2 separate regions of the Homo sapiens genome follow, and region 2 is linked to region 1. The links come from fine-mapping of genetic effects on gene expression. A gene starts in region 1. The other region holds a variant in brackets. All regions are shown on one strand. Distances are between the middles of the regions.

Region 1 (15,955 bases):
CTGCAAAGGGCACAGCCAGACCCTGCTCCTTGAGTGCACCTCACAAAACACCAGGACTCCTGACCCCAGAAACACAGACAGCAAATGCTCGTTGTTGAAAGGCACTATGGTGGCCAGGTGCGGTGGCTCACGCCTGTAATCCCAGCACTTTGGGAGGCCAAGGCAGGTGGATTACCTGAGGTCAGGAGTTCAAGACCAGCCTGGCCAACATGGTGACACTCCCTCTCTACTAAAAATACAAAAAAAAAAAAAATTACCCGAGCGTGGTGGCTGGCATCTGTAATCCCAGCTACTCAGGAGGTTGAGGCACGAGAATCGCTTGAACCCAGGAGGCAGAAGTTGCAGTGAGCCGAGATTGTGCCACTGCACTCCAGCCTGGGCGATAAGAGCAAAAAAACTCCATCTCAAAAAAAAAAAAAAAAAAAAAAAAGAAAGGCTCCATGGTTTGGGGCAGTTTGTTGTGGTGCCAGATAACAAAACAAACAAACAGAGAGAAAACAGCAAAGGGCTCCTGGCCCAGGGAGCTCAGACCAAAATGACAAGAACCAGCTAGCTGTCCTGCCCTTGGGCAACAGCCATGAGGGTTTCCAGCCAGCTAAGTGCATGGATGATGCCGCCACAGGGAAGAGACAGAAGGGCTTCCGGGACTGGGACCACGGGCACGCACCGCCATGCCTGGCTCATTTTTTAAATTTTCTGTAAAAATGGGGTCTCATTATATGGCACAGGCTGGTCTTGAACTCCTGGGCTCAAGAGATCCACCTGCCTTGGCCTCCCAAAGTGCTGGGATTACAGGTGTGAGCCACTGGGCCCAGCCTGTGACTCATTCTTTTTATTTTTATTTTTTCAGTTAAGCCCAGCTGTGCGAGCCTCATTCTTAATGAAAGAAAAACATCACTAAACAAGAGGAAAAGATGAAGCAGCAACACCATGAGGGAGGCTGGTGGTGGGAAAGCAGCTGAGGGGCGGCTGCAGTAGTGCATGGCATCACCGCCTAGCGGAGGGACGCTCCAAGCACCTTCACAATTAAATGCATTGATGGCCAGGTGCGGCGGCTCACGCCTGTCATCCCAGCACTTCAGGAGGCCAAGACAGGTGGATTACCTGAGGTCAGGAGTTCGAGACCAGCTCAGCCAACATGGTGAAACCCGTCTCTCCTAAAAATACAGACATTAGCCGGGCGTGATGACGGGCGCCTGTAATCCCGGCTACTCAGGAGGCTGAGGCGGGAGAATCACTTGAACCCAGGAGGTGGAGGTTGCAGTGAGCCGAGATTGCACCACCGTACTCCAGCCTGGGCGACAGAGCGAGACTCTGTCTCAAAAAACAAAACAAAACAAAACAAAACAAAACTAGCCAGGCATGGTGGCGGGGACCCTGTAGTCCCAGCTACCAGGGAGGCTGAGGTAGGAGGATCCCTTGAGCCCAGGAAGTTGAGATTTTGGTGAGCCAACATCGCACCACTGCCCTCCAGCCTGAGTGACAGAGTGAGACCCTGTCTCAAACAAAAAAAAGCATTTATCCTTTGACCTAGAAATTCTCTTGGAATTTTCCCCAAGAATGGTGTGCACATGTGAGAAACAGCATGTTACTGTCAGGTCAACTGTAAGAGCAAAAGCCTGCAACTGCCCACCCACTGGAGCTGTTGAGGCCGAGCTGCCAGGCACTCTACGGGCACCAAGCACTGTACAAACCAGAGCCATGGCCTCCCTGACAGAACCATCCTGAGACAGCGCACGGCTGCCCCTTCTCTTAAGAAACCACCATTCAAAAACTCTGTGCGAGTTTGGATATGTCTAGAACATCCTGGAAAGAGACTTCAGCACTGGAAACAGTAGTTGCCTGGATGCAGCAACAGGAGCCAGGAGGGAAGGGTAGGAGACTCGTTCCCTGGCACACCCCTCAGGAGCACCTGAGCATCCAAAGGTGCCCTAGAACACCACGTGCAGCTGCTCACTGAATGCCACGTAATTCTACACAGTCCTTAGAAAGGAGGCAGGGTCGTGTGCATGTCAATGCTAAAGGCCTGAGGGCAGAAAGCCAGAGGGAAGCCTGTGGCCCGGCCCTGCAGCCAGAAGCACGCCCACCCTGGGTCCACCCAGGCAGGTCCGGAGCCCTTGGCAGGTCGCCAGGTCTCCACAGGGGCCGCCAGCAGCTGACCCCCAGCAGTCACCGGGCTCCCCGCTACAAGGGCCTCCCACTGTGGGGCTCTCCGCAGGACGCCCCGGGCCGGTCTGGGTTGGTTTGGGGCACACACTTGGAATCAGATTTATGGAGGAGGCTCTCTGAAGGTGACCCATCAGCCACATCGCTGCCAGGATGGCAGAGATGAACAAAAGCCGCAGCTCCCTCCCATGCCAGTCACACAGCCCCTTCTTCACAGCACCATCGGGGCCGGGTATACCCACCAAGGGCTAGGCGGCCTGGGGAGTGAGGCCCTCGCCCTGCCTGACTTCGTGTGTCCCTGAGGTGTCCGTGACATGACACATGCATGCTGCCTGATGCCCAGCCCCATCCCGCCACTGTTCCAGTCTGATGTGATGCTGTGGCTGGGATGTCCTTCAGATGCACGAGGCAGAGGCCACAGGGGCCACGTCTTGCCAACCACTGTGGAGGAAACAGCGACAGGAGGGAGTGGGGGGACAGGCAGAAGCACGTGGCAGAAGAGAAATTAGCAAAAACATCATCTCGTCCTTCAGGGGCTGCCAGGCAGACATTACCCTCACTTACCAAGTAACCCACCGAGGCCCATGAACCATCTGCAAGACCACACGAGTGGCCGTGGCCAGGACCACAGAATCCCAGGTGCGCCCACTGCAGGGCAAGGACACTTAGCAGCAGGAGAAGCTGCTGTGTCACTGTGGTGTGAATTCCCAGAACCAAGGGGCACTGATTCTAGAAGCCGCTCAACGGAAGGGTTCTTGGGTTGAGGACCCACAACCACTGGCAGGGGCATCGGGGGCAGAATCCTCCAGATGGCTGTGGCGGGCGAGGGTGTCTGGCAGAGCCCCTGGTGGCCCGGCCCCGTGGACCCACGATGCGAGTGGGAGGTGGCGGAGATACAGGCGTAAGGAGCCCTGGACTGCCTTCGGGATGACACAGAAACAGGCCTAACCTGAGGCCACTAACTGGGCATGACGGGGCCATCTTGGCGGCACTCTGGGAGGCCTCACGTGGCCACGCTCATGGAAGCCAAGAGAACATGCAGGAGGCAGCACTGGGCTGCCGGCTGAGTTTCCACCTGCAGGGCTGCACAATGGGAAAGGACTCCCACCATTCAAGAGGGGCGCGGAGGGCAGGCAGGAGGGAGTGGCCGCTCAGCAGGCCAAGGTGCCTGGGTGGCTTCTGATGAACAGGGGGGAAAAGGGAGGGGTTCCCACTAAGAAGCTGAAAGCACCCCCACCTCATCAATTCATTCTCCTGACCTGGAAGAATTTAAACCCAGTCATGAGGATCACACTTTAGAACTGAAAACACCCTGACAGGGCCCAAGGTGCCCCTCAGCTAAAGCACAGGACACGCGGGCAGATGCACGGGCGCCATGGCAGGGCAGGGCCTCAGCCCCTCAGCTAAAGCACAGGACACGCGGGCAGGTGCATGGGCGCCACGGCAGGGCAGGGCCTCGGCCCCTCAGCTAAAGCACAGGACACGCGGGCAGGTGCATGGGCGCCACGGCAGGGCAGGGCCTCGGCCCCTCAGCTAAAGCACAGGACACGCGGGCAGGTGCATGGGCGCCACGGCAGGGCAGGGCCTCGGCCTCCCAGCTAAAGCACAGGACACGCGGGCAGATGCACGGGCGCCATGGCAGGGCAGGGCCTCGGCCCCTCAGCTAAAGCACAGGACACGCGGGCAGGTGCATGAGCGCCACAACAGGGCAGGGCCTCAGGCAGGGACTTGGGCAGCCAGCAGCGTGGGGAACTCTGAGGACCGCCCCACCAGCCCGGCCGGCCTTGCCACCTCAGGCCCTGCTGGATGACGGAGCACACAGACCACAGACAGCGGTACTTTGGAAAACACCCTGCATGGGGCAGCCAGTTACGCGGTCACAGAAACCCGAGCAGGGCAATGGGCAGGACAAGCACACACTCAGCAGTGCAGAGGACCTGGTGCTCCAGGGGCCAGGAGACAAGCAGCGAGAAGAGAAGATGGCGCCTCCCTAGACTCCGCAGACACCTCTAGTACCTTTCAAGTACTTGGATATGTTATTATGCGAAAACATTGTTTTGGTTTTTGAGGCAGAGCCTCACTCTGTCACCCAGACTGGAGTGCAGTGGTGAGATCTCGGCTCACTGCAACCTCCGCCTCCCAGGTTCAAGTGATTCTAACGCCTCAGCCTCCCGAGTAGCTGGGATTACAGGCACGCGCCACCACGCCCAGCTAATTTTTATATTTTTAGTAGAGACAGGGTTTCACCATGTTAGCCAGGCTGGTCTTGAACTCCTGAGCTCAGGTGATCCATCCACCTTAGCCTCCCAAAGTGCTGGGATTACAGGCGTGAGCCACCACGCCCGCTGAAAGAATTTAATAAAAAAATCATTAACATGTAAATGTGTAAATCCTTAATTTAAAAAGGGACAGAAGACCCAGAAAGATGTACACCAGACCACTAACTGTGCTCACGGGTTAGGTGTGAGGGCCCTGAGTGGGAGCTTCCACCCTACTGAATGGTGCTGCTACAATATCTACATTATTTTCCAGGATGTTTTATCTCATAATTTTTTTTTGAAACAGGGTCTTGCTTGTCACCCAGGCTGGAGTGCAGTGGCTCTATCATAGCTCACTGTGACCTGGATTCCTGGGCTCAGGAGATCCTCCCACTTTGGCCTCTCGAGCTGCTGGGATTACAGGTATGAGCCACTGTGCCTGGCCCAGTATTGTATCATTTTAAAAACTCAAGAAGGGGTAACGTAGTTGTCCATAATCTTACAAACCACTGCCAACACAGCACATCATTTTTTCTCTGTGTATGTTAGTGGTATAATTAAAGCCTGAATTAAGTGTGATTTTAAATCTTTTCTTCCCAGCAAACAAGCCAACCCAACACAGCTAGCACACAATGAACAAGCCATGGTTCCTTGGCTTCTATCACGGGGACCTCTGCCAAGGCCGTAACTTCCAGAACACCGAAACTACTGGGAGAGTAAATCCTTACAAACGATTTCCAGAATGTTTAGAGTAACAAATGCTGGGCTGGGCGCGGTGGCTCACACCTGTAATCCCAGCACTTTGGGAGGCCAAGGCAGGCAGATCACTTGAGGTCAGGAGTTCGAGACCAGCCTGGCCAACATGGTGAAACCCCGTCACTACTAAACATACAAAAAAAAATTAGCCGAGCCTGGTAGTGGGCACCTGTAATCCCAGCTACTCAGGAGGCTGAGACAGGAGAATTGTTTGAACCCAGGAGGTGGAAGATGCAGTGAGCCAAGATCGCCCCACTGCACTCCAGCCTGGGCAACAGAGCAAGACTCTGTCTTAGAAAAAAAAAAAAAAAATAGGCCGGGCGTGGTGGCTCACCTGAGGTCAGGAAATCGAGACCAGCCTGGCCAACACGGCAAAACCCTGTCTCTACTAAAAGTACAAAAATTAGCCGGGCGTGATGGCATGTACCTGTAATCCCAGCTACTAGAGAGGCTGAGGCAGGAGAATTACTTGAACCCAGGGGATGGAGGTTGCAGTGAGCCAAGATCACACCACTGCACTCCAGCCTGGGCGACAGAGTGAGACTCTGTCTCAAAAAAATAAAAAATAAAAAAAAATAACAAATGCTGTGTTTTAGTTAAATTATGCTTTTCTCCTGTTGTTCTCAATAAGAGTAGGGTGCATCCTCCCCCACCATCGCTGCAACAGGTACAATGTTAAACCCTCTACCCGTCGGCTGCTCAGGCCCCTGAAGCCCTGTGGGGTCAGGCCCAGCTGGGTTCCGTTGGGGCCCCCATGCCGCCTGCTTGAGCCCTGCCATGCTGCTCAGCTCCCTCCTCAGCTGGGTCCTGCCACTGGATTCCAAGCAGTAAAATCCCCACCTCAAGGAAACCCAACCTGTTGCCAGGAGGGTTGCCCGAGCATCGTCTGACGGGGAAGGGCCTAGGCATGTGGATTTTCAGAGTTCCTGGGAACGGCACGCAACTGGGGATGGAAACCAGCGTCCTAGAGCCCAAGCGTGCCCCAGGTGCAGTGAAGGAGGGACGCCGGCCTTGGGGTTCTGAGGGACGGTGGAGAAGGCAGTACAGTGGCAGTCTCAGAAAGCCCAAGGCCACCTGCACATGGGGGACAGCCCTCGAGGGGGCTCCTCGCTCACCCACCTGCACCTGCTCCTCAGTGGTCTTTTTAATCCCACTGTGGCCCTCGTCATCAAGGGCTCCGTCCTCTCCCTCCTCGTCGCCTTCGTCATCATCCTCACTGCTGTCACTGCCGGAATCTTCCAGGCCTGAGAACACACTTTCCTCGCTGTCGGAGACGCCAGAATCGCTGCCGGTGCTGTGGCTGAGAGGAGAGGTGCAGAGGAGGGGGGGCTGCAAGGAAACACTGGGTTGGTGACAACTGCCCCTCCAGGCATGGGGCACTGAACACTGCAGGGAGAGCTGCCTCTCGCCCCTCCAGCCACCCACCAGCAGCTCCATGTGGCCTCCAGGACCACACCCCTCCAGTCACAAACTTCCACCAAAAGCATCCACCCAACCTGAGCCTTCCTCATCTTCTACCTCCACTGACAAGACAGCCTCTTGCCTTTGCCATCGACATTTTAATTCCTAGCACCTCACAGGGAAGGGGCTTTTCAAGGACAACCTCCTCCTCTTGGAGCTCAGCTCTCATCGCAAAACTAACACTGCTCTCTACCACCCACTGACACTCCGGAGGCCCTGTGGGGTCAGGCTGGGCTGGACTCCACTGGGTCCCTCAGACAGCCTGCCTGAGCCCTCTCCACACCTCACCCTGGCATCCAAGGCCCCAGAGCCAAGAGGTCACTAGAAAAGGGGCTGGGGGCTGGAAGAGAAATGGGTCCCCAAAGGGCTTTTACCACCTGAAGCAGACGCCTCCTCATTTAACCAGATTGGGACCAACGATTGATCAGTAAATTGAAAGGATTGGCTGAAGAGTCACAGGAATGATAGAGACTCTAACCGCAACCACGCACCAACCCACCCACTCCTCTCTCTGAGCAGGACCACAGCTGCCTCTGAGCAGAGCCCTGCTGGCTGCGTGACACCGGCACACACAGTGTTCGGGTCCTTCACTGGCCTTAAAGGGTGGAACAAGAACTTAGACTCTTAGGAAGCAGTTGAAGGCCAGGCACAGTGGCTCACTCCTGTAATCCCAACACTTTGGGAGGCTGAGGCGGGTGGATCACCTGAGGTCAGGAGTTCAAGACCAGCCTGGCCAACATGGTGAAACCATCTCTACTAAAAATACAAAAATTAGCTGGTGGTGGCGGGCACCTCTAATCCCAGCTACTCAGGAGGCTGAGTTAGCCAGGAGGTGGAAGCTGCAGTGAGCCAAGACTGCACCACTGCACTCTAGCCTGGGCAACAGAGCCAGGCTCTGTCTCAAAAAAAAAAAAAAGAAAAAAGAAAGAAAAGGAAAAGAAAAGAAAAAGGAAGCAGTTGAATGCAGAATTCTAGATTTTACTGTTTTCCTAATAGTTTACAAGTCTCACTTAAGGTACGACCTGCATGTATTAGCTATTGCATACCGAGTGTTCACACAATGCCTCTCTCACACAGAGTCATGATGTGTCTTGGTATTCAGTCGGCTACACAATCACAATAACTAGTGGAAATGGCATCCGTGGCCTGGGCGCAAACAACTGGCTCCTGAGGACCGTTTAGTCCAAGGGTGGAAGTCGCAGAACCTGGCGCCTAGAGTGGCCTGCGGGCCATTCAGCCCATGGGAGCCAGGATGAGTTGAATTCGCTTCACAAAGCAATGGGGCAGTTTCAACAACCCAGCGCGGCCGCGGCCGAGGGGGCTGTGAGGGGCTGGCTGTCCATCCCCTCCACCACCCAATTTGATGATCCCCACAACCAAGACAGGGCTGAGCTAGCAGAGAGCAACAGTGAGTTCTAATACAGCAAATGCAGCAGACACTGGGTTCTATTCAGGTTTTCTTATTCTCATGTCTATCCCATGAGCATAAAAACGCAATTAACTAGCGTATACGTAGGTTAAGCATTTACTGGGAGCGCAAGCCGAGCCCTTTTATTGGCAGGATGCACAAATGGAACGGCTGGAGAGGCTGCTGCAAGGGGCGCCCCGTCCCCACTCCCCGCTCCCCCGTTTCTTTGCTTCCCGGACGCCGTCCTTTACCCCGCAGTCCGCTCTGCCTGAGACCCCCCGATAGAGGAGCTGCACCCACGCCCAAGACCGATTCACTGGGCGCGGGCGCCCAGGTGACAGAAGCCGGGCCCACCCGCCCCAGCGCGGCCACGTGCCCGCCGGGCCCTCTAGGGACGCGCCCCGCCGCCCCGCATCGCCACAGTCACCTCCGGCTCGGGCTCAGGCTCCAGTTCGGGCTCAGACCGCCGCTTCTCCGGCCGCACGCTCGGCGCCGCCGTGCGCCCCGCACCCCGCGAACCCGCCATGCCCCACCGCGCGCCGGCCGCCACCCGCACAGCCGCTTCCGACAGCGACCGGGCCGCGTGCGCAGGAGGACGCGCCCCGCCCAGCCCGGCCCCGATTGGCGGGTGGAGGGAAGGGGGTGGGACCAACACGCGCAGGCGCGCGGCTGGGCCGGGGACCAGGGCGGGGTCGGGGCCTGCGTGCTCGCGCCGGGGGTGACGCGGGAGGGCGGCAGCGGCGGCGGCGGGAGCGCGCCCGTTGCAAGATGGCGGCGGCCATGCTGGGCCCCGGGGCTGTGTGTGCGCAGCGGGCGGCGGCGCGGCCCGGAAGGCTGGCGCGGCGACGGCGTTAGCCCGGCCCTCGGCCCCTCTTTGCGGCCGCTCCCTCCGCCTATTCCCTCCTTGCTCGAGATGGATCTGCCCGTGGGCCCCGGCGCGGCGGGGCCCAGCAACGTCCCGGCCTTCCTGACCAAGCTGTGGACCCTCGTGAGCGACCCGGACACCGACGCGCTCATCTGCTGGAGCCCGGTGAGGGCAGCGCGCGGGCGCGGGGCCCGTGGGGACCGGGAGGGAGCAGGGCCGCGGCGGACGGCGCGGGAGGGCTGCGGGGAGGGGCCCTGCCGCACTTCAGCTTACGCGCGGTGAGCCTGCCCTGCCCCCGCCAGAGAAGGGCGGCGGGTCCCGAGCCTGCTCAGACCCAGAGCCTTAAGTTGGGAAAGCGGCTACGAGACCCACACTCGGTTCAACCCCTGCCCCAGCGAAGTTTCCCTGGGATGGGGAGAATGGGGCGTCTCTTGTATTGGGCTTCTGCTAACTGTTGGGCGGTTGCGGAAGTGTCCGCGCTTAGGGCAAGCACCCGGCTTCGCCAGCGGACGCTATGCCCCAGAGGACATCGGCGTCCCCAGGGGACAGCCTACGGGGTGCTGGGTCGGCAACTATTAGGAGAAAGTCAGGACTTGGCACGTGAAGTGGAGGGCGTTGCTGTAGTGGAACAGGAAAGGCAGTGGAAACAGTAAGACGTCATGAAGCTTCAGGTTGATCTCAAGCCCGTTTCCGAATCCCAAATCTGGGTTTCCCAAGAGGAGTTTTGTTTTTCATTCCTTATGGGGCATCTTTATTCGTGTTTCTGTCTTCAGTTGCCTGGCAGCAGGCTTGTTTACATGGTCCGACCCTGCAAGACCGGACAGCTCCGGTTTGCAGAAGTAAATCAGTGATTGTCTGGAGTTGGAGATCAGAATCTGCTGTTCACATCCCGGCTGTGACGTCGTGTCCGGTGAGGGGCAGAGCCACCGCCTGCGGCTGGCAAGTGATGACCTGAAGAAGGGCCACACTGGCCGAGTGGGGTGACTCTTGCTTGTAATCCCAGCACTTTGGGAGGCGGAGGCGGGTGGATCACTTGAGGCCAGGAGTTCGAGACCAGCCCGGACAATATGGCAAAACCCCAGCTCTACTAAAAATACAAAAAATTTGCCGGGCGTGGTGGTGCTTGCCTGTGGTCTTAGCTACTTGGGAGGCTGAGATAGGAGGACTCCCTGGACCTGGGAGGCAGAGGTTGCACTGAACCAAGATCCCGCCACTGCAGCCTGGCAAAGAGTGAGACCCTGTCTAAGAAAAAAAAGAAAAAAAAGAAAGGCCACTGATCATTGGGAGCTTTTGGAGGCACCGTGACCGGCAGGGTGCCACCAAGCATGTGTGGCCTCCCAGGAGCTAAGACCCCAGAGTTCTTCAGGCTCTGCTGAGTGCCTCCCATTTGCACAGCCTCTTTATGCTGTTAGGAATGAAGAAAAGTCTAAACTGAAGCTGCCCCAGGCAGGAGGCCAGGTTTTCTGCTTCTTGGGTTTACTGAGGCTCTGCTTTACCTACAGAGTGTTTGGAAATAAAGAGAAGACTGGAAATCTTTGCTCTTGTTAGAAACACTTTGTGTTTGTCCCGCTGACACCTCTGTGTTGGCCTTCCCATCCCCAGGTCCCATTAAGGCACAGTGCACCTTCCTGGAGGCTGGCTTCATTTCACCATCTCTTCATTCTAGACCTTGGATTCTTGTGCAAAGGAAATACTCCCATGTTTCTGTCTTCTTTTATCCGTCTTTTTCTTTTTTCTTTTTTTTTTTTTTAGACCGAGTCTTGCTCTGTCACCCAGGTTGGAGTGCAGTGGTGCGATCTCGGCTCACTGCGACCTCCACCTCCCGGGTTCAAGCAATTCTGCCTCAGCCTCCCGAGTAGCCAGGACTACAGGTGCGTGCTGCCACACCCGGCTGATTGTTGTATTTTTAGTAGAGACGGGGTTTCACCACATTGGACAGGCTGGTCTGGAACTCCTGACCTCAAGTTATCCACCCGCCTTGGCCTCCCAAAGTGCTGGGATTACTGGTGTGAGCCACTGCACCCAGCCCTTCTTCTTTTTCTTATTCCCCTTAATCCTCAGAAGTTAAGGGGAATAACTCCCCCATTGGGGGAGGGGCATCCGCGATTATCTGGGATATTCTAAGCTTAATCCTACTAGCGTGATCTGTCCTGTCCCGTAATCTGCTTGCTGTTTCTGCTTAAAGATTATGAGGCATGTGGGTTAGGGCCCAGTGTACCCTTTTTTGGGACCGAGGCATGTTCTGGGCAGGGCTTTTGAGCAAGGAAGGCAGGTGTGATGAGGCCCGTGGCCAGCCTCCACTCCACTCACAGGTGCACCACCTGTGGATCTGTTCTCCCTGGGGAGGGATGGGGAGCCAACTGGAATGTGAGTGTTTGGTTCCACCTGGTCAGTATGAAGTGGCAATGGTTGGTGCAGGACGTAGCACTGGGGGCGAGCATGGCAATGAGACAGAAACACTGACTTAAAACTGGAAGGAAGCCCTTCTCCAGGCCGCGCAGGGGGCTGCAGAGCTTTCCGGCGCTGGCTGCCTGGCCTGGAGAAAGGAGGTGATCATCCCATCCTGTGACTTTGAGAGCACTCACACAAGCCCTGAGGACTCCCTGTCAGCAGAGTCCCAACAGGGCACCCTCCCACAAATCTACTGCCCAGGCCCAGCTGGCTCTCGGAGGCCTTGAGAAGGCCCTGGTGCTCTTGCTCTCTGCTGCCTTCTCTGGGAGAGTCTCCTTCTGGCTCAGAGTCTTACCACCATTCTGCCAAGAAAAACCCTCCCTATTTGACACAAGAAGATGAGGCAGAATCACAGGCATGGTGACTAACTCTCAAGGCTGAATAACCTGGGGGAGACCGAGGCCCAGAAACTGGCCAGTAACTTTACTGAGCCTGGCCAGGAATGGGACCAGGTCTGGACCACCATTGCACGTCCCCTCCCTGGCCTGAGATCAGGACTCCCACTGCAGCCACTGGAGGCAGAATGCCGGGTCACTGCCCAGGAGACCCCATTGGTGGGGACTGTGGCAGCTACCCCATCCCTGTGTTGTTTGATTTCCCACCCCCCCCTCCCAAGACCCTCATTCCCATGAGCACCCCACCCACACAGGCAAGGGCCTTGAGGGGACCCAGCAAGTCGTGGAGGACAGCACAGCCTTGGAGAGGAAATGTGTCAGCCACAAGGTTATGATCCCGGGGATCCACATAAGAGCATGGGCGTGCACGTGGGTGGTCCTCCCTCAGCCAGCTTCTCAACAGCTTCTCCCAAAGGTACACCTGGATCCAGTACCACTGAGACCCAAAGACGGGGTTGGGGGACTGAATACCTGGACTGACAGGCACCTCCATAGAACTGAGACCCATGAGACCCGGGACCCGCAGCCTCCCTGCCCCGTGCCCTGGTGCCGGCCCTCAGCCCAGCTTCCTCGTCTGCATGCAGCAGCTCCTCTGTCCACCAGCAGAGGCTCTTCTAGGGCCTTGCTGGGCTGCAGCTGACTCAGGAGGGCAACAGCCTCTTCAGAGAATTTGACAGCATGGAGAACCAAACAAAAGCAGAAAGTGAAGCCTCAGAACTGGGTTCACCATCATCCCAGTTTTTTACAAGCTATGATTTTGTCCCATCTTTATTAACAAGATAAGGAAGTATGAAAAGTAATCTCGACATCTGAGATGGTGAGATTACAGCCCCAGGAGCCACCCAGCTGGCTGAGGAGCCTGAGAACAAGGCACAGCCACATGACCTGTGCCAGACAAATGCTAGAATGATGGTCACGCAGGTTAGAACGAACCCAGGTAGACGGAGGCCTCAGGATCAGGGTGAGGCCAGAGGGGGCACCTGGGTGCAAAATTTAAGGAAGCACTTTTTGTTTTTTAGATAAGGTCTCGCTCTGTTGCCCAGGCTGGAGTGCAGGGCTATGATTGCAGCTCGCTGCAGCCTCTGCCTCCCAGGCTCAAGTGATCCAGTCACCTCAGCTGAGTCACTGGGACTACAGGCTTGCACCACCAGACCTGGCTTTTTTTTTTTTTTCTTTTTAAGGTTTTAGTAGAGACAGGGTCTCGCCGTATTGCCCAAGCTAGTCTGGAACTCACGGGCTCAAGCCATCCTCCCATCTCAGCCTCCCGAAGTGCTGGGATTACAGGCTTGAGCCACCGCGCCTGGCCCTGAGGCATTCCTTTTTAAGACCTACCTGCATTCGGATGGCGCTGGGAGTGGGGGCCTCCTTAGATGTGGGCTCCTGGATGCTTCTCTGTCTTCACCTGGCCCCAGCCTCATGGGTGCAGCTGGAAAGACTCTAGAAGGATGTGCTGAAACCCTGGGGCTCCCTGAGACTGAGTGAGCTGGAGGTCACCAAGGCCCTCGGCCTATCGCGGGAGAGAGTTCCATTGAAAGCCAGTGGTCAGGTGGCCGCTGTGGAGGGTCTCTGGGTGGACAATTGGGAGCAGAGTGGTCCCTGCAGTGAGGCAGGGGGCAGGGCCTGAGGGGTCCCTGAAGTAAGGCAGGGCAGGGCGTCCACTCATAAGCACACGAGGAGTTGCAGAAGCAGAGCCGACCTGGCCACGCTCAGTCACTCAGACCCTGGTCACAGATCGTGTCCGGAGCTCCCACGGCAGGCAGGGCCACCCCTGCTTCCCTGGTTCTGAGAGCCGCCAAGACCCAGCAGGCCCACTGGCCCCACCCTGGAAGATCTGGTATTTGGCCCAAGATGCTGGAGGCCCCACAGCAGCAGCTGTGAGAAGTGCTGCAGGGTCTGGAGGGCCTGATGTGTGCCCGGACCATAGTGCCTCCTGGTGTGGCCATAAGAAGGCACACAGCTGGGGCTGGTCGTGGTGGCTCACGCCTGTAATCCCAGCACTTTGGGAGGCTGAGGTGGGCGGATCACGAGATCAGGAGGTCAGGAGATTGAGACCATCCTGGCTAACATGGTGAAACCCCGTCTATATTAAAAAATACAAAAAACTAGCTGGACGTGGTGGTGGGTGCCTGTAGTCCCAGCTACTTGCGAGGCTGAGGCAGGAGAACGGCGTGAACCCAGGAGGCGGGGCTTGCAGTGAGCTGAGATCGCGCCATTGCACTCCAGCCTGGGTGACAGAGCGGGACTCCATCTCAAAAAAAAAAAAAAAGAAGGCACACATCTGTCCTCATACAGCTTCTGTGCATAGCACAGAAAAAATTAAAAAGGCTCTGTGCTGTAGCCTCCTGTGTTTCCTCTGCCCCGGATGGTGTGGTGGGGGGGGTGCGGTGAGGAGGGGCCCAGGGCACAGAAGGGCTGAGCTGCAGTGGCCTCCTGGGGGGAGGCAGATGCCTCCGGTGCCCCATGCCCACCCAACTCCACAGGCTAGTGTTTGCTCAGTCCTTTATTGAGGGACCAGGGATGGACAGCCTGGCCCTGAAAGTCTCTCAGTTTTGGAGGAGTCAGCCTGTGTGCAGGGCGAGCTGGAGAGGGGTCGGTGGGGCTCACAGTGCCTTCCCAGAGGAAGCAAGCAGCTCCCATCGGGTATATTGAGGGCTGTTGGCTCCAGGGTCTCCTCAAGGTCTGGCAGGTGGAGGGGAGGCTGTCTAAGGAAAGGAGGTGGTCCCAAATGTCTCAAGGCACCTGGCAGCAAGGGCTGCTGCTGCCTCAGCCTCCTCCCTGTGACCCTGTGGGCCATGGTGAGCAGCAGTAGCCACCACACTTGTGCACGGCAGCCAGTGACGAGATGTGATGAGAGATGAGGGCGATTGTGCTGCTCTTGGTCCTTGTGTGGCGAGAACACGCTGGAAGCTCCTCCAGAGCGGAAACAAGAAGAGTGTTTATGAGAAAGGTGCGGGTGGCTCAGATGTGGACAGAACCAGACCAGGGAACGGGGCCACAAAGTGAGCCACTTTGTCTGCACCTGCTCGCGCTTCCTGCCTGCCTCACTGCTTCCATGCCCTGACTCCGGTGGTCCCTGCTCCCCACACGTGGGCCACAGCTACTCACACACGCGCTCCCTTTGCTCCTAAAGCCTATACTCCCGGGACCCGGAGAGGGAACAGCCGGCCAGCCGAGCCCAGGAGCCCAGATCACCGGTCAGCAGATACAGCTTTGACTTGGCAGGAGGCTGGAACAAGAGGCTTGTGGCCTGGGCTGTGGGGCCACCTTGTAGAATACGGCACTGTTCACGTTTTGGGCCAGGGAGCCCTTTGAGAAGATACTCAGAGACACAGACACTTTCTATGTAAGGTGTCCCTACAGGCAGGATCTCACACACATTTCAGGTCCTTCACAGTGCTGCAGAAAATGAGGCCACAGGCTCCAAGTTTACTGCAAGCTGCGGGGTTTGCTGACACCTACACTTCTCAGCGTGTGGCATCTCGCACCAGCCAGGGGCCTCCCATTTCCAGTGGCAGGTTTTCGTGATATCCAGTTATGACCGGTGACTCCTCCAAGAGGTGCCTGTGGTCAGCAGAGGAGGGACCTTGTTCCACTGAGGCAGGAAGATGAGAGAGACACTGGGTTCTCTGATGGGTTCACCAGCAGACCCTGTGAAATTCATAATGGCCCCTAAGGTAGGGGTTGCCTGACATGTTCAACTTGGATTTAACCCTTAAGGCATAAGAAGCCGCTGAAAATGTTCAGACGTTACAAAACTAGGGCCGGGCACGGTGGCTCACGGCTGTAATCCCAGCACTTCGGGAGGCTGAGGCGGTTGGATCACCTGAGGTCAGCAGTTCAAGACCAGCCTGACCAACATGGTGAAACCCCGTCTCTACTAAAAATACAAAAAAAAAAAAAATAGCCAGGCGTGGTGGTGCGTGCCTGTAATCCCAGCTACTCGGGAGGCTGAGGCAGGAGAATCACTTGAACCTGGGATACAGAGGTTGCAGTGAGCCGAGATTGCGCCGCTGCGCTCCAGCCACAGAGCGAGAAACTGTCTCAAAAAAAAAAAAAGAAAGAAAAGAAAAAACCGGCGAGGACTGAGGTAAACCACAAAATTGTCCAGGCTTTTTATGTGGAGGGAATTTGCAGACTCACGTGCAGAGAACCCAACAAACCCAGACTTTGGGGCAGCTGAGGCAGCTAGAATGTG
Region 2 (14,253 bases), 26 kb before region 1:
ACACACCATCCAGGCGAGTAGGGCCTGGCCCCCAGCTTGGCGGGGCCACTTGTTCCCTGCTAGGCCCACTCCACGTCGCAGCACACCAGGGGCCCTGTGGGACACCTGGCAGGAGGTGACCAGGGCAGTGGCACTGTCACCACCACCAGCGGTCACCACACGGCCCGTGCCGCTCGGGGGTTGTCTGCTTTTGGGCCAGGTGCTCCTGAGGACGAAGCCTTGTGGGGACAGAGGTCCAAAGGCGGCGGGGGCCTAAGTGTGAGGTGCTCGAGGGCAGCGGAAAGCCACATGGCAGGGGCTGTGGAGTTGAAATGGAGGGTCCTGCTGGGTGGGGACGCTGGTGCAGGGCATCCTCTGCCCCAGACCGTGCCTGTTGGGTCACACACTACGCCCCACCCACTGGCAGCCAGGAGTGGAGCAGCCTCAGCAGGGAAGGGCTCATCTGAGCCGATGGTCGATGCCAGGCTCAAGCTGGGCCCTGTAGAGGCTTCAACATCAGACTCTCCCTGCCAGTTTCTGGCCCAGCCACTGCCAGGGAGACCAGAGGGCAAGGTGCTTGCCTGGTGGAGGTCTGGGGAGTCAGAGAGTTGGCCAAGGTGGCCCCCATTGCACGCCCAGGGCGCCTGCTCTTCAGCACGCCAGCAGCCCCTCCAGCTCTCGGCACCATCCTCCCGCTCACTTGCCAGCCAGCCTCAGCCGACACTGGGAGTGGATCAGGGGCCTGCTCGCCTCCCAGAGGGCTGTGGAGTCTCCTGGGGTACAGGTGTGAGAACCCGAGGTGCCAGGCAGGAACAGGCCCGGGGTGGGGGGCACCTGTGGTGTGGGTGCCCAGCAGCGTCTGGGTGTCCGGAAAGGAAGGCCGGTGCAGCCAGAGGGCTTTGCCTGTGTCCAGCTCTCAGGCTGGTGGCCAGGTGGCCACAGGCTGACCTTGCTACTAGCTCACCTCCAAGCCAACATCTGCGTCCTTGCCTTGGGTGGGGAAATGGGGGGCCTCTAGCAGATGGCCCAGAGCCTGCTTCCTGGAGAGTGGCTCTGGCAGGGATAGGGCTAGCCACCAGGTGGGCAACACGCATTGGGTGCAGACCTGAGGAGTTAATCAGGAAGGGAGGTAGGCGTGTGTGCCCTACCAGCTGAGCACCCTGGCAATCCTGCAGCTCTGCAGTGGACACCCTGCGGTCCATGCTACTCCGCAGCGGCAGCGAGGATGTGGTACAGCGCATGGACCTGGAGGGAGGCTGGGAACTGCTCAGGACCTCGGCGGGGCATGAGGAGGGGGCCACCAGGTTGGCCAGGTGAGCGGGCCCAGCCCACTGCAGCTCCAGCACTGGCTGGGCTCCACCGGATCTCGAGCCCAGAACATGACAGGATCAGGCGGGGGCCCATGCGTGTCAGGCCAATGGTGCCCTGGGCTCCTGCCTGTTCACTCTCTGGGGCAGGGGTAGGGAGGCACCCCTGCAGAGGCCTGGCGAGGCAAGCTGGGAGGCATCTCTGAAACATAGAACTCCCAGAACCTGGCAGCTGGCGGTGGAGCGGACCAGGGCTGTGCAGGGTGGAAGGTGCCTGGGTAGGGTTCAGCACAGCAACAGCCCCTGCACCCTCAGCGGCCCCCTTTCCCAGGGCCATGGCTGAGCACGCAGGGCCCCGACTCCCCCTGGTGCTGAAGACGCTGGCATGCACACACAGCAGTGCGTATGAGAACCAGAGGGTGACCACCACCGCCTTCCTGGCCGAGGTAGGCCCTTCCAGGGACGGATGCTGGGCACCAAGGTGGGGCTCCTGCTCAGGACAGGCACGGGATGCCCTTTTCTTACCCCTAAAAGGCCCCCTCGACCGTGGTCTGTGAGGGAGGTTATGTGGATGCTAGCTACCTCCTCCCCCATGCCAGAACTCACTCAGTCCCACCCAGGGACACCCCCTCTGTGCCTGGTGAGAGGAGGACCGAGGCTCCCTGCAGCCTGTACTCTCCCCAAGTCCAGCTGGGTACATTTGTAGCTGGACAGGGCTGGCCCCTGGGACCCCAGGTGCCCTTGGTGGTGTGGTCTTGGCCTTCGTGGCCAAAGATGCCAAAATCTTGCCCAAGGCCGTGCAGCAGAGCACAGCGGGCGTCAGAGCAGGCCCCAGCGGCACAACAGGGAGGGGTCGCCACTGATCGGAGACCCAGGGAGTAGGTGCTCCACCTCTGTCTGCCACACCGGCGTGGGGACAGCCTCTGGTGTTCTGGGCCTGGGCTGGTGGGTTGAGCCCTGGGGTCAGCGGGGAGAGGGAAGTCACAGCACCTCTGCCTGCAGCTGCTGAACAGCAACGTGGCCAACGACCTCATGCTCTTGGACTCGCTGCTGGAGAGCCTGGCGGCTCGCCAGAAGGACACATGCGCCAGCGTGCGGAGGCTGGTGCTCCGCGGCCTGGCCAACCTGGCCTCCGGCTGCCCTGACAAGGTGGGGTGGCCACCAGCCCCTCTGGGTCCCAGGCAGCATGGGTGGGGGGCTGTGCATGGAGGCCACCCTGTCTTGTGGGGTAGCAGACGGTGACTCTGGGACCCAGGCTGAGTGTAAGGTATCCTCAGGTGCGAACCCACGGCCCCCAGCTCCTCACAGCCATGATTGGCGGGCTGGACGACGGGGACAACCCTCACAGCCCAGTGGCCCTGGAGGCCATGCTGGGCCTTGCGAGGCTGGTGCACCTGGTGGAGTCCTGGGACCTGCGCTCAGGGCTGCTGCACGTGGCCATCCGCATCCGGCCTTTCTTCGACAGTGTAGGCTGGTTGGGGCAGGGGGAGGGAAGAGGGCCCCAGCCCTTCCTGCCTCTTACTCTGAGCTTTAGCCCCAGCCCCACCCTCCTCCCTGTCTCCCACCTCGGCTAGGTGACCGTGGAGAGCGCGGACCTGCAGGGCTGCTGCTTTGCTGGGCCTGGCAGCCCCCACCCGTAAGGCCCCCACCCGTCGGGGTGTTTCCTGGCCCGGGTCAGGCAAGGGCACCCATCAATGGCAGGGGGCTAGGCAGGCAGGCCTGCAGGGGCACAGCCTGTGAGGAGACGTATGCTGCATGTCCTTCCCAGGAGAAGATGGAGTTCCGGACGGCATCTATCCGCCTCTTTGGGCACCTTAACAAGGTCTGCCACGGAGACTGTGAGGACGTCTTCCTGGACCAGGTGGTGGGCGGGCTGGCGCCCCTGCTGCTGCACCTGCAGGACCCTCAGGCCACCGTGGCCAGCGTGAGTAGCCAGGGGGTGAGTGGGATGGGGTGGGTGGCCTCAACTGGACTTGGCCCCAGTGCCGCATCCCTTAGGCCTGCAGGTTTGCCCTGCGCATGTGTGGCCCCAATCTGGCATGTGAGGAGCTCTCAGCTGCTTTCCAGAAACACCTGCAGGAGGGCCGAGCCCTGCACTTCGGGGAGTTCCTCAACACCACCTGCAAGCACCTGGTGAGGGGTGGGGCCAGGCGGGGCGTGGTGGGTGGGGCGGGGCCAGGCGGCACTGACCAGGCCTCTCCCCAGATGCACCATTTCCCAGACCTGCTGGGCCGTCTCCTGACCACCTGCCTGTTCTACTTCAAGAGCAGCTGGGAGAACGTCCGAGCTGCTGCACCCCTGTTCACCGGTAAGCACCACCCCCTGCCCCACCCCCACGCCGCCCGGCAGCCCCGCCTGATGCCCCCACTTCACAGGGTTCCTGGTGCTGCACTCGGAGCCCAGGCAGCAGCCGCAGGTGGACCTGGACCAGCTCATTGCGGGTGAGCACCCCTCCACGGGGCCCCTCCGCTGGGCCCTGCTGACCCTGTAGGCACCCGCAGGGACTAAGTGATTTTCCTGGATTTCAGGACTTTTTCCCTGTCACTGGTGACCTCATCGTCTCTAGTAATTCACGGAAACTTCTTAACTGTTCCAAAAGAGCTTAAAAAACACTAAAAAAGGAAAAACGATCTTTCCGTTGGCTCCTGAGCCTCCCAGCAGAGGCTGTCAGGAGAGCGTGGCCCACGCGCAGGCATGGGCATGCCGAGGTCACAGCCCGCAGGCAGCCCCCCTCCTCTACCCCCAGCGCTCCAGATCCTGCTGAAGGACCCGGCCCCCGAGGTGCGGACGAGGGCTGCTGAGGCCCTGGGCCGCCTGGTGAAGCTCGCCTAAGGCTCCGGCCAGCACCCCCAGCGAGGAGTATGCACCCAGACCTGTGCCTGAGCTCCAAGACAGGGCCTCCTGAGGACCACAGCCTGGGCACACGACTGGAGGGGCCTGGCCCCAGAACAGGCACTGCTGGGGACCAAACCCAAGCCCTTCAGTGAGGGATGTGCCCAATAAACTCATCTGCTCCCAGCGAGTGACTGACAGGGTGCGATGCTGAGCCTCTTAGGGGATGGGCCAGAGGGTGCCCTGGACTGGCTGTGTTGTCCCCACTGTTTTTGCAAAATTGAGTGAGGGGAAGGCTCGGCGCTGTGGTGGGGGCGGCTTTGTTGGCAACCCCAATTCAAGAAGGTGGGAGCACCAGGCAGCACAGGGTAAAGGCTCTGTTGACTTCAGCACGACCACCCCAGCCCCAGGCAGGCAGAACAGCTAGGTGAAGAGGCGGACAGTCCCGTCTGCCCCCGAGGAGAAGACCCACGGCTGGGTGGGGTGGAAGATGACGTCCAGCACTCCCAGATCTCGGGTCAGCACGTGTCCCTTCAGCACCTTGACGGGCACCAGCAAGGGGTTCTGCAGAAGGTCACTGTGGGGACGAGGAGGGCTCAGGGCACGGCCAGACACCACTGCCCTGGGGAGGGGGCCAGGCAGGGTCAGCACTCACTTGTACACCATGCCATGGCAGACGATGACACTGCCGTCGTCCGAGCCTGACGCAAAGAGTGGGTACCGCGGGTGGAAGGCCACAGCCCGCAGAGCCTTCTTGTGGTGTCTGGGGGGAGGGAACCAGGTTGAAGGCAGGCTCGGGCTGAAGGGAGGGGCTCTGCTGGCCGCCTCCACCCCCAGCTTTCCTCACCTCAGCATCCTGTATGGCTTGGTGGAAAGATCCAGGTCAAACCACACCAGCTTGCTATCGTAGCTCCCACAGATGACGTTGTCACCTAGGGCCAAAGGCTGTGATGCAGGTGTTCCCGCTCTCACCTGCAGGGTGCACTGCCCTGCCCGTCACCTACACCCCTCACCTGCAGGGTGCACTGCCCCTACCCCCACCCCTCACCTGCAGGGTACACCGCCCCCCCCCCCACCCCTCACCTGCAGGGTGCACCGCCCCCACCCCTCACCTGCAGGGTGCACCGCCAGGCTGGACACCCACTTGCAGTTGGGCATCAGCTTCTTGGTGAGCTCCTGGCGCAGCAGGTGGTAGAGGCGGACGCTGCGCTGGGACGCCACCAACAGGAAGGGCCGGGCAGGGTGGAAGGCCACTCGCTGCACCTGTCCGTGGCTGCGGCGGAACGGACTCTGGCTGCGGCGACGGCTCAGCTGGTGAATCAGCACCTGGGTGTGGCCTTGGGTGGCCAGCACCACGGCCAGGTAGTCCCCACGCCCGTGCCAGGTCACCTGCGTCACTGGCTGCAGGAGAGCAAGGCTGGCTGAGTGGCTGAGCC[G/A]GGCCCCTCCCGCTGCAGCCTCACCCCCAAGGCGCCCCACGTACCTTCCCGTGGCAGATGCGCAGCCGCAGGCCCACTTGGCGCTCCTCCTCTGAGGCCTCCAGCCAGCGGGCCGGCTGCAAGGGGGGCTCCTCAGGCGGGACGAAGGCGCTCAACAGCTGATCTGTGCTGCCCGCCACCAGCCGGTCCCCCAGAGCTGGGTTCAGCAGCAGCACCGAGTCCTCCCTGTGAGCCAGGCCCAGACACGGCCCCTAAGCACAGTGCCACCCCTGGCTCCCCAGCCCCCAGGGCCTCCACTTACACGGCTGCAGCCACCAGGCAGACAGCGGGGCTGGGGTTCCAGGCCACACTCTTCACCACGCCCCCCACGGGAACAGTCCTCACACAGCGGGCAGTGGCCACCTCCCAGAGCCGCAGGGAGCCGTCGTCAGAGCCTGGATGCGGCAGAGACAGCTCTCAACACCTGGCCATCCCACCTGCCCCCCAGCTCAAGGCTGCCCCCAGCTCGGACCCACCTGAAACCAGCCACTGGCCCCCAGGAGAGACACTGAGGCACCGGACAAGGTCACTGTGGCCCCTGTAGACCTGAGGAGGCGGCGGCAGTGAGGAGTCAGACTGGGAGGGTGCAACCCCAGCCCCCTAGTCTCCACTTACCAGGGCCTGGCACGTGGGGAAGGGCTGCAGGTCCCTCGGCCGAGGCAGCTTGGGGATGAGGTCCTCAGGGTCTACATTCACCTGGGGCAGGAGAGCGCCAGGTCAGCCTTGCCCCCTGTGCCACCCCCCTGGTGTGCCACCCCCACACACCCTCATCTTGCGCTGCCGTGGGCACAGGTACAGGTCAAGGCAGCGCTCGAAGCGTTCCTGGATGAAGCGTCCGTAGGCAGGCACGGCCCGCAGGCTCGGGAACTTGCGTGGCAAAAAGCTCAGCTTCCTCTCGCCTGGCTCCTGCTGTTCCCACGCCAAGCGCTGTGGAGACCAAGACACAGGGGTGGGGAGGGTCACAGGGAAGCATGGGGACAGGGTCCCGGCCCCCAGGATGCAGGCCCACCTCCTCCTCGCTGAGCAGGTATTCAGGGGGTGGGTTGTACGACTCGGCGTGGCCTGGCAGGGCCAGCTTGGGAGCAGGTACGTGCATCTTGTGGCGCCCGAGCACGGCGTTGGGGTCCTCCTGGGCCCACAGGTCATAGAAGCTGGGGGTGGGGTCTCGGGGCCGGCGAGGCTGGATCCAGCCCATCTTGATGGCGTGCACCATGCGAGAGACCTGCATAGACAGCCGGGTCAGGACGGGCAGTGCGGGGCGGTCAGCCCAGGCCAAGCCCCAGGGGCTGTGTGCCCCACCTTCTCCTTCTCCACCAGGGAGGGGATGAAGCTGCGCTTGTCGGCCGGGCGGTTGGTCACCGGGTGGATCATGACGTCCCCGCTGAAGAAGTCGACAGCCGGCTGGGGGAGAAGATGTGGGCGTGTGGGCCAGAGTGGCTGAGGCCCTGCTGGTGCCTCCAGGACCCCCGCCGCCCAGGGGCCAGCCCCTGCCACCTACCTCATAGGGGTTGAAGCCCACATCCCCAAACTGGCCACTCTGCAGCCGCCGCACCAGGGCCACCTGCTCATCCGTCAGTCTCAGGTCCCGCCCTGTCATCGGGTCCTGCACGGTGCGCCTGGAGACCGCCAGTCAGACCCCGCCAGCCCTGCCCCACCCCTCGGGCCCACCCCGGCTGCTGGCCCCACCCCACCAGCCCTCACCAGTAGTCAGGATCGTCCATCTTGTCCAGGAACTGGTCCAGCTCATCCCGGGTCCGCAGGGGCTTGTAGATGCGCCTGCCATCCAGGTCGTAGCCCACGTGGGGGAAGTCATCGTACCACTCCAAGGGCACGTTGCCCACCGTGTTCCGGATGTCCTGCAGCCGGGGGCCACCATGTCGGCATCTGATCCTACAAGGCCCACCCCCGCTTCGGGCCGCCCAGGGGAGCAGGTGAGGGGGTTGCAGGGGGAGTGCAGGCCCAGCCTCAAGTGCCCTGAGGTCACTGGCCCTGACCTACGCCTGTTCCCCAGCCCTGGGGTCTGACGTGGCATGGCGGCCACGCTGCCCCCACCCCCGCCCTCGGAGGCGCCGGAGCTGCACCTTCACATTTTCCACTGAAGTGGTGCCAACCCCAGAGCTCCCCCCTCACTGGATTCCTTGGCCAGGGCTCTGGGCAGCCACAGACAGGGATGACCTCATCACCCACGGGCTCCCTCCCCTGGCAGGGGCCTTAGGCAGAAGTGGGCAGCTATAAGACGGGGACTCGGGGAAGACCCCAACTGACCCATTCCACAGAGAGGCAGAAGCCAAGACCTCTCTGTGGGGGACCCCCCACCGTCTGCCCTCGGCCCCTCCCCAGGCAGAACAGCCACGTTCCTGGACGTACATTCCTGGTTGCAGCCCCTGCCAGCCGCCACCCTCGCTCCTTCCAGCCTGGGGACCGCTGCCCAGGAGGCTGCTTCCTGCAACAGTAGCCACGGGGAGGGGCCCAGGCAAGACAGAGCACAGCTGGGAGCCTGCCGGGCCCCCTGCTGCAGGAGGGACCCCTTGGGCCCTGCCCCCTGCTGAGGGTCCTTCCCTCTCCTCCCCATGGAGATAGGGGGCCATCCCCAAATTGGATAATGGGGGTATGTGTGTGCTTCCTGAGGGGCCTGGTGGCCCTGGAGAGGAACGGGGGAAGGAGGAAGGGGCAAGGAGACCGACGGGGTGAGAGGTCCACACAGCACAAGAACAGGGGACATGGCCAGCTAGCAGAAGGCACAGTCTGTGCCAAGCCTGGAGAGGCAGGTGCAGGACAGACAGGCGGAGAGACTGAGCTCTAGGCCCCTAAATACTCGCCTGTGCCCGCCCCCTGCACACGGCCTGGCACAGGCAGGCGCTGGCGCACATGGGAGGCAAAGACAGACAGGGTGCGGTCAGGCAGCAGGGCCAGGGCGGCTGGGTTAACTCAGTTGTGCCACGGGAGAAAACGGGGTGGTGGGTTCCTCCCCTCTCCCGGGGACGGGGGGCACTGCAGTTTTGGGGCCCTGAGTAACTACAGCCCAGAAGCGACCTCCCAGTTCCTCCGCATCCCCAGAGACGGAACGATGCCCCCAAAGACCAGCCCCGCCCCCCCCACCCCCGCCAAAGCGTGGCCACAGAAGGCCGAGGGACGCGGCGGGCGCTGCTCGAGGAGCCTCCGGGCTGAGAGGGGCGGGGCGTGCGCGGGGGAGGGGCCGGGACGCCGCTATAAAGGCGCAGCTCGGGGCCCCGCTCCGGCCCGGGACGCACATGTGCGCGCGACGCCCGGCAGCTGCCACCGCGGGGCGCAGCCGAGACCCCGCGCCTCGCCCCGGCCGGCCCGCGAGGCCCGCGGCGGCCGCAGGAGGCGGCATGAGCAGCGCGCGACAGAGCTGACGCCGCGCCCCCGCCGGCCCCATGTCCTTCGCCACGCTGCGCCCGGCGCCGCCGGGCCGCTACCTGTACCCCGAGGTGAGCCCGCTGTCGGAGGACGAGGACCGCGGCAGCGACAGCTCGGGCTCCGACGAGAAACCCTGTCGCGTGCACGCGGCGCGCTGCGGCCTCCAGGGCGCCCGGCGGAGGGCGGGGGGCCGGCGGGCCGGGGGCGGGGGGCCAGGGGGCCGGCCAGGCCGTGAGCCCCGGCAGCGGCACACGGCGAACGCGCGCGAGCGAGACCGCACCAACAGCGTGAACACGGCCTTCACGGCGCTGCGCACGCTGATCCCCACCGAGCCCGCCGACCGCAAGCTCTCCAAGATTGAGACGCTGCGCCTGGCCTCCAGCTACATCTCGCACCTGGGCAACGTGCTGCTGGCGGGCGAGGCCTGCGGCGACGGACAGCCCTGCCACTCCGGGCCCGCCTTCTTCCACGCGGCGCGCGCCGGCAGCCCCCCGCCGCCGCCCCCGCCGCCTCCCGCCCGCGACGGCGAGAACACCCAGCCCAAACAGATCTGCACCTTCTGCCTCAGCAACCAGAGAAAGTTGGTGAGCACGGGCCGTGGGGCGCCGAGGGGGGCCTCCAACGCGCCCCTCAGCCCACACCTGCCAGGCAGAGGAGGCGAGGCCACACGGGCAGGGCTCCCCAACAGGGCACAGGCAGGCACACCTGTAACACAGGCCTGCCGGGGGCTGGGGCCTTCTCCTGGGGCTCCTCTCCAGGGCGTCCCTAGGACACTCGGCTCCCAGTGGAGTGTGGAGTCCCCTGCAGGGAGCTGCATGAGGGGTAAGAGCTAGGGATGGCCAAAGGGGCCCACCCAGGGCGGGGAGGCTGGGGAGCTGGACCAGGCCGCTGCAAGCTTCCCTTTTCAGTAAGTTGAAAGGCGGAGTGAAAACAGCTGAGTTCAGAAAGTAAGAGGCTGCAAGGCAAGAGAGGAAGGACCCCGGGTTCTTAGCCCCTGCGGCCCAGCACTGGCTTAAGCCATCTTGGGCACCTGCTGTCCGTCCCCCACCTAGGCCGCACACCAAGACACCAGGTCCTGTAGGGCTGCCCGAGACGTGGGCCATGGGACACGAAGGCAGAGGCTGGCAGGAGATGTGGGGGCTGGGGGTGAGGGCCCCTGCAGGAGACGCTGGCCAGCTGTGATTTACAGCTCCTGCTGTGCTTGGTGGCACCGGAAAAGCAGGGTGAGCAGGGAGAAAATACGGCACGGCTTTTCCCAATCCCCATTTCCTCTCCAGACAGCACGCGCGAGCTCCTGGGGCCTGAACATCTGGGAAATTTAATTTTACAATTTCGGCTGTGCAGCAGTATGCTCCCCTCCCCAAAACGCTTGAGGGAAGCTGGGGAGAGCCGGGAAGGAGGTGCCTTGGCGCTGGCCACCTGAGATGGCACCCAGCAGGGAGGCCAGAGAGGCGCAGACTGGCGCTGGGCTCTGCCGGGGCCTGACACTCCTCCCTCCCCTCTGCAGAGCAAGGACCGCGACAGAAAGACAGCGATTCGCAGTTAGGAGGTGGCCGGCAGCAGCCAGGAGGCAGACGCTGCTGGGGGAGGTGGACGCCCGGGGTGACTGCAGACAGCCCCCACCTTGGACCTGAGCTGGGCAAGGCCCACCGCAAGCATGCCCCCAGGCCAGCCCTGGCTGCGAGCGGGGCCGAGGGACAGACGGACGTACAGACAGGCGCCGGCAGCGGGACTCTGCGCTGGCCCCAGCACCTGCCCGGGCCCACTGGAACTTTCTGCGCTGGCTTTTCTTCCGGCCACTGTGTGATGGCATCTTGTGTTTTTGATATGATAATATAAAGTCTGAAAATTTTGTATAATTAAAAACAAAACAGTATCTTCCAAATATGGAGGCCAACTGTCCTCATGAAAGGTTCAGAATCCACCCCCAGCCCCCAGCCTGAGCCTCCATTCCCACCCTTGGTGGTCCCATCCTCCTTGGGCCAAGTACCCCGGCTCCCTGGGAAGCCCCCACTTTCCAGGCTCAGGGCCACCCCTCCCTGGGCTGAGGCGGTGAGGATGGGCTTAGCTCACCCACAGAGCCTCATATCGGGAAGCTGTGGGGTGGGGACAAGGGAGCCACGCCGGGAGAGAGGGTGGGGGAGGAGCTGCGTGGCAGAAGATGGGGAGGGCGAGGCACAAGGCAGGGACGCTGTAAGGCAGGGACAGGGAGGCAGCGGCAGGGACAGAGGCAGCAGCAGGGCAAGGGTGCCCCCGACTCGGGCCTGTCGGGCACCCGGGGGCCCTGAGGGTGAGGAGGGCGCTGCAGGTGGCCACAAGGAGTGGAGCGAGCTGTGCTGCCCAGCGGAGGGGGGGGCTCCCAGCCCCAGCGAGGGCAGTGGGTGTCCTGCCTCCACGAGCCTTGACTGGAGAGAGGGGCATCTCCTCATGCACCAGTGCCACTTGGCCCCTGGAAGCACTGCCCACGTGGGAAGGAGGACCCCTGGCCATCCTCCTCCCACCACCACGGCCCATCCAGCCCCCTGAAGACCCCGCCCACCACAGGAGGTGGGTTTAGCCCCCACAGTGCTCTGTGCACAGCTGGCTGGCCATTAAAACCCTGCAGGTGACAATTACCATTGAGTGGTGTGAGATCAGTGGGCACAGAGAGAAGAAGGGCGGTGCTGTGTGGACCACCTCCCCCCAACCCTGCCAGGCCACAGCCTAACTTCCGGCTGGGTGGACAATGGCTGATGGTGCCAGGTGCGGGCGTCAGGGCGGCGGCCGGCCCCAGTTCCCCGCTAGCACAGGCAGGGACGCACCCTCGGGGGGAGACCAGGTGCTGTGGCCCACGTGGGCATCGGTGCAGGGCTGGCCCAGGACTGCCCCTCCTCTGCAAAGACAGGCTCCAGGGAATGGCGGAGCAGGAAGCAGTGGTGTAATTTTGGAGGAAATTCTCAAAGCCAGAGCCATTAAGGGCTAGAGGGGGGCTGAGTCCAATCTGATAGAAATATAACAGGATAAAAAGTCACAACGGCAGGTTTCGTTCAGAGAGAAACCCAACCCCAAATTTCCTCTCCCTAATCCTGCAGGAGCCCACAGCTGGCCAGAGGGAGGGGAGGAGAGGACAAGCTCAGTCACTGCAGAAGCCTCCGCCCGCCGGGAAGCCAGGGCCCGGGGGACACGGACATGCAGCTAGGGGCTGACGCAGCCCCTTCCCTTCTTGGGAGCTTTCCTCACACCCCCGCCCCGCCACCCTCCCAGGCACCAAGGCGCTGGTGAGTGAGGAGCAGGGTGGACCCAGGAGCATGGCCAGGCCGGGCACTCTGCATAGCACCCTAAGGCCCACGGCGCCCACGCCAGCCCTCCCTCCACTGGGCACTGGGTGTAGTTCTGTAGGGAGGGTCCATAGCCCACCTACCCCTCACCTCCAGGCCTCCCATTTCCAGACCTGGGCCTAGTGGGGGTTGCAAACCTCCACATGAACCCCCAACCTCAGTGGCCGGTCAACGTTGGGGACAAATGGGATGGAAGATAGTGAAAGTCTCCAGGGCAGGGACATCAGGGGCTGCTGGCCTGAGCGGGCAGGTGCGGGGCGTCGGCGGCCGGCACCAAGGACAGGGCAGAGCCAGCTCAGAGCGGGAATGCAGGAGGCCAGACAGGAGCAGGTGGGAAGGTGCGGGCCAGCATGGGGAGGTCTGGGCAGGGTCAAGAGGGAGTGCAGGGGAAAGAGACGTCAGAGCCCCCGTGGACTGGGGTCAGAGTTTGGGGTGTCTAACGAGGCTAGAAGAAAGTGAACAGGGAACAACGACCTGGAGGCCTCGGAGCTGAAAGGATCCCCAGGGCCCTGCTGGTTGGGGTGCAGCACTCACAGCCAAGCCCTCCGCTGCGGGCCTGACTCCGACCGCGGCTGCAGCTTGGCCAGCCTCAGGCCTGGGCAGCCAGCCCAGCCGCTCCCTGAGCTGCACCGGTAGCAGCGGCCGAGGGCCCGGCCCGCCAGCCAGCAAGAGGGGAGGGGCGGGGGAGGAACACTCCGTCACCCTCCACTGCTCCAGAAATTCAAACCAGACCGGGGGTGGCGTGGGCTGACCCCCAGGCCTGCGGCAGCCCACCCGAATCCACTCGTAGCTCACAGCCGCCGGGCAGACGAGTGGCAGGTGCTCCCTGCCCACCACAGCCCCTGGCTCCCTTCCCAGAGTGCTGGCCTCACCTCCACAGAGACCCAGGGCTCCCTCCGCCTGTGCCCCACAGAGGCAGCTGGGACGGAAGGGGCCCCAGCCTGCACCCTGGGCCAGCAGCCGCCCCTGCGAGCCGAGCTGGGCTGGAAACGCTCTGCTGGGCCTCAGCTGTCAGCTCCTGTCCCCGGCCTGGGGAACGAGCTGCTGGCGGGACACATGATTCATCACGGTCGCCTGCGCCCACCACCCGCCCCGCCCAGCGCAGCACCTGCGGGCTGCCAGGAAACACATGTGACCCCTCCGGGTCAGGCCCCGCACGGAGAGCCCCGGCCGGCCGGCCGGGGGCACACACAGACCCAGCATCAGGGCTCTCCTGGGGGCCGCCCAGCCCCAAGGACAGGCCCCCAGCCCAGACTGCACCGGACACAGGCCGCAACCGGCTGATGTGTCGGCTGGGATTTTTCCGCTCTCGATGAGCCCCCTTCCCTCCCCCTCCCCAAAGTGGCTGCAGCTGTCAGGACCACAGATTGGAACTGCAGGTATGGGGCTGGCCCGCTGCCCGCCTCCTCCCGTGTCTGTCTGCGAGAGAGGAAGCCGGCCCACCTCTGGAATCCTTCACTCTCTCCTCGTTCCGCCTCTCCCACCTGTCCCCCGGGAGCGTGGGGTCAGCCGCCCTCGCTCCGTCTCTCTCTTCCCCAGCCCCTCTCCGATTACAATGCGGGTAGTGTTCAGCGTTCGCGCCGCTCCCCTGCACAAAACGCCCGCCTGTCTCGGAGCGCCACACGGCCTTCCTGTGCGACGTGAGGCCGCCTCCTCTTCCTCAGGGTTTTATCTGTTGAAGTGCTCAGGGCAAGGCCAGGGCGGGAGGCTCACCTGCTGCATCTCACCCTACTGAAGGTTCCAGCAGGGGTGCTGGGCCCTGGCGCCGGGGCCAGAGGGGAGAAAGCCAGGTCCTGCTTAGTCTCCTCCTCCTCAAAGTCCAAACCAGCTGAGCGAACCCCCAGCCCAAGGTGGGGCCCCAGGCAGGAGGAGCCACCAGCCCAGACGCCCTCAGCTCCGGCCCGGCTCCCGCCAACCACGCATCTGCCCTTCTAGAGGCTGGGCACACAGCTCGGCCTTCTC

Direction of the effects. Alleles are on the strand shown, and positions count from the first base shown. SD is a standard deviation of normalised expression in the study named.
In carriers of allele A in region 2, the expression in tibial artery of the gene that starts at base 8,643 in region 1 tends to be higher than with G alone (small effect, 0.24 SD a copy in GTEx).

Evidence for each region.
Region 2: its variant is fine-mapped to the expression of BOP1 in tibial artery (GTEx, PIP 0.94).

What each region holds. Positions count from the first base shown.
Region 1 is chr8:144,282,796-144,298,750 of GRCh38, forward strand. It overlaps BOP1 (BOP1 ribosomal biogenesis factor), which reads right to left and starts at 8,643. Exons shown (of 16, transcript NM_015201.5): 1 at 8,477-8,643; 2 at 6,300-6,509. The coding sequence starts at 8,575. HSF1 (heat shock transcription factor 1) reads left to right here and starts at 8,809. Exons shown (of 13, transcript NM_005526.4): 1 at 8,809-9,079. The coding sequence starts at 8,963. RefSeq lists silencers at 8,387-8,886, 8,997-9,156 and enhancers at 9,288-9,944, 9,547-9,606.
Region 2 is chr8:144,257,623-144,271,875 of GRCh38, forward strand. It overlaps MROH1 (maestro heat like repeat family member 1), which reads left to right. Exons shown (of 44, transcript NM_032450.3): 36 at 1,155-1,292; 37 at 1,618-1,732; 38 at 2,289-2,435; 39 at 2,564-2,752; 40 at 3,055-3,210; 41 at 3,285-3,419; 42 at 3,492-3,594; 43 at 3,662-3,727; 44 at 4,033-4,304. The coding sequence ends at 4,118. BOP1 (BOP1 ribosomal biogenesis factor) reads right to left here. Exons shown (of 16, transcript NM_015201.5): 4 at 7,295-7,449; 5 at 7,092-7,209; 6 at 6,893-6,994; 7 at 6,603-6,815; 8 at 6,359-6,520; 9 at 6,209-6,289; 10 at 6,070-6,139; 11 at 5,856-5,988; 12 at 5,599-5,779; 13 at 5,231-5,519; 14 at 4,966-5,050; 15 at 4,774-4,881; 16 at 4,423-4,695. The coding sequence ends at 4,542. It overlaps SCX (scleraxis bHLH transcription factor), which reads left to right and starts at 8,831. Exons shown (of 2, transcript NM_001080514.3): 1 at 8,831-9,558; 2 at 10,482-10,859. The coding sequence starts at 8,992. The coding sequence ends at 10,520. MIR7112 (microRNA 7112) reads right to left here and starts at 5,115; the gene lies at 5,051-5,115. RefSeq lists silencers at 8,765-8,954, 13,315-13,484 and enhancers at 9,200-9,967, 9,968-10,733, 13,379-14,022, 14,023-14,253. The variant G/A (reference allele first, on the strand shown) is at 5,555.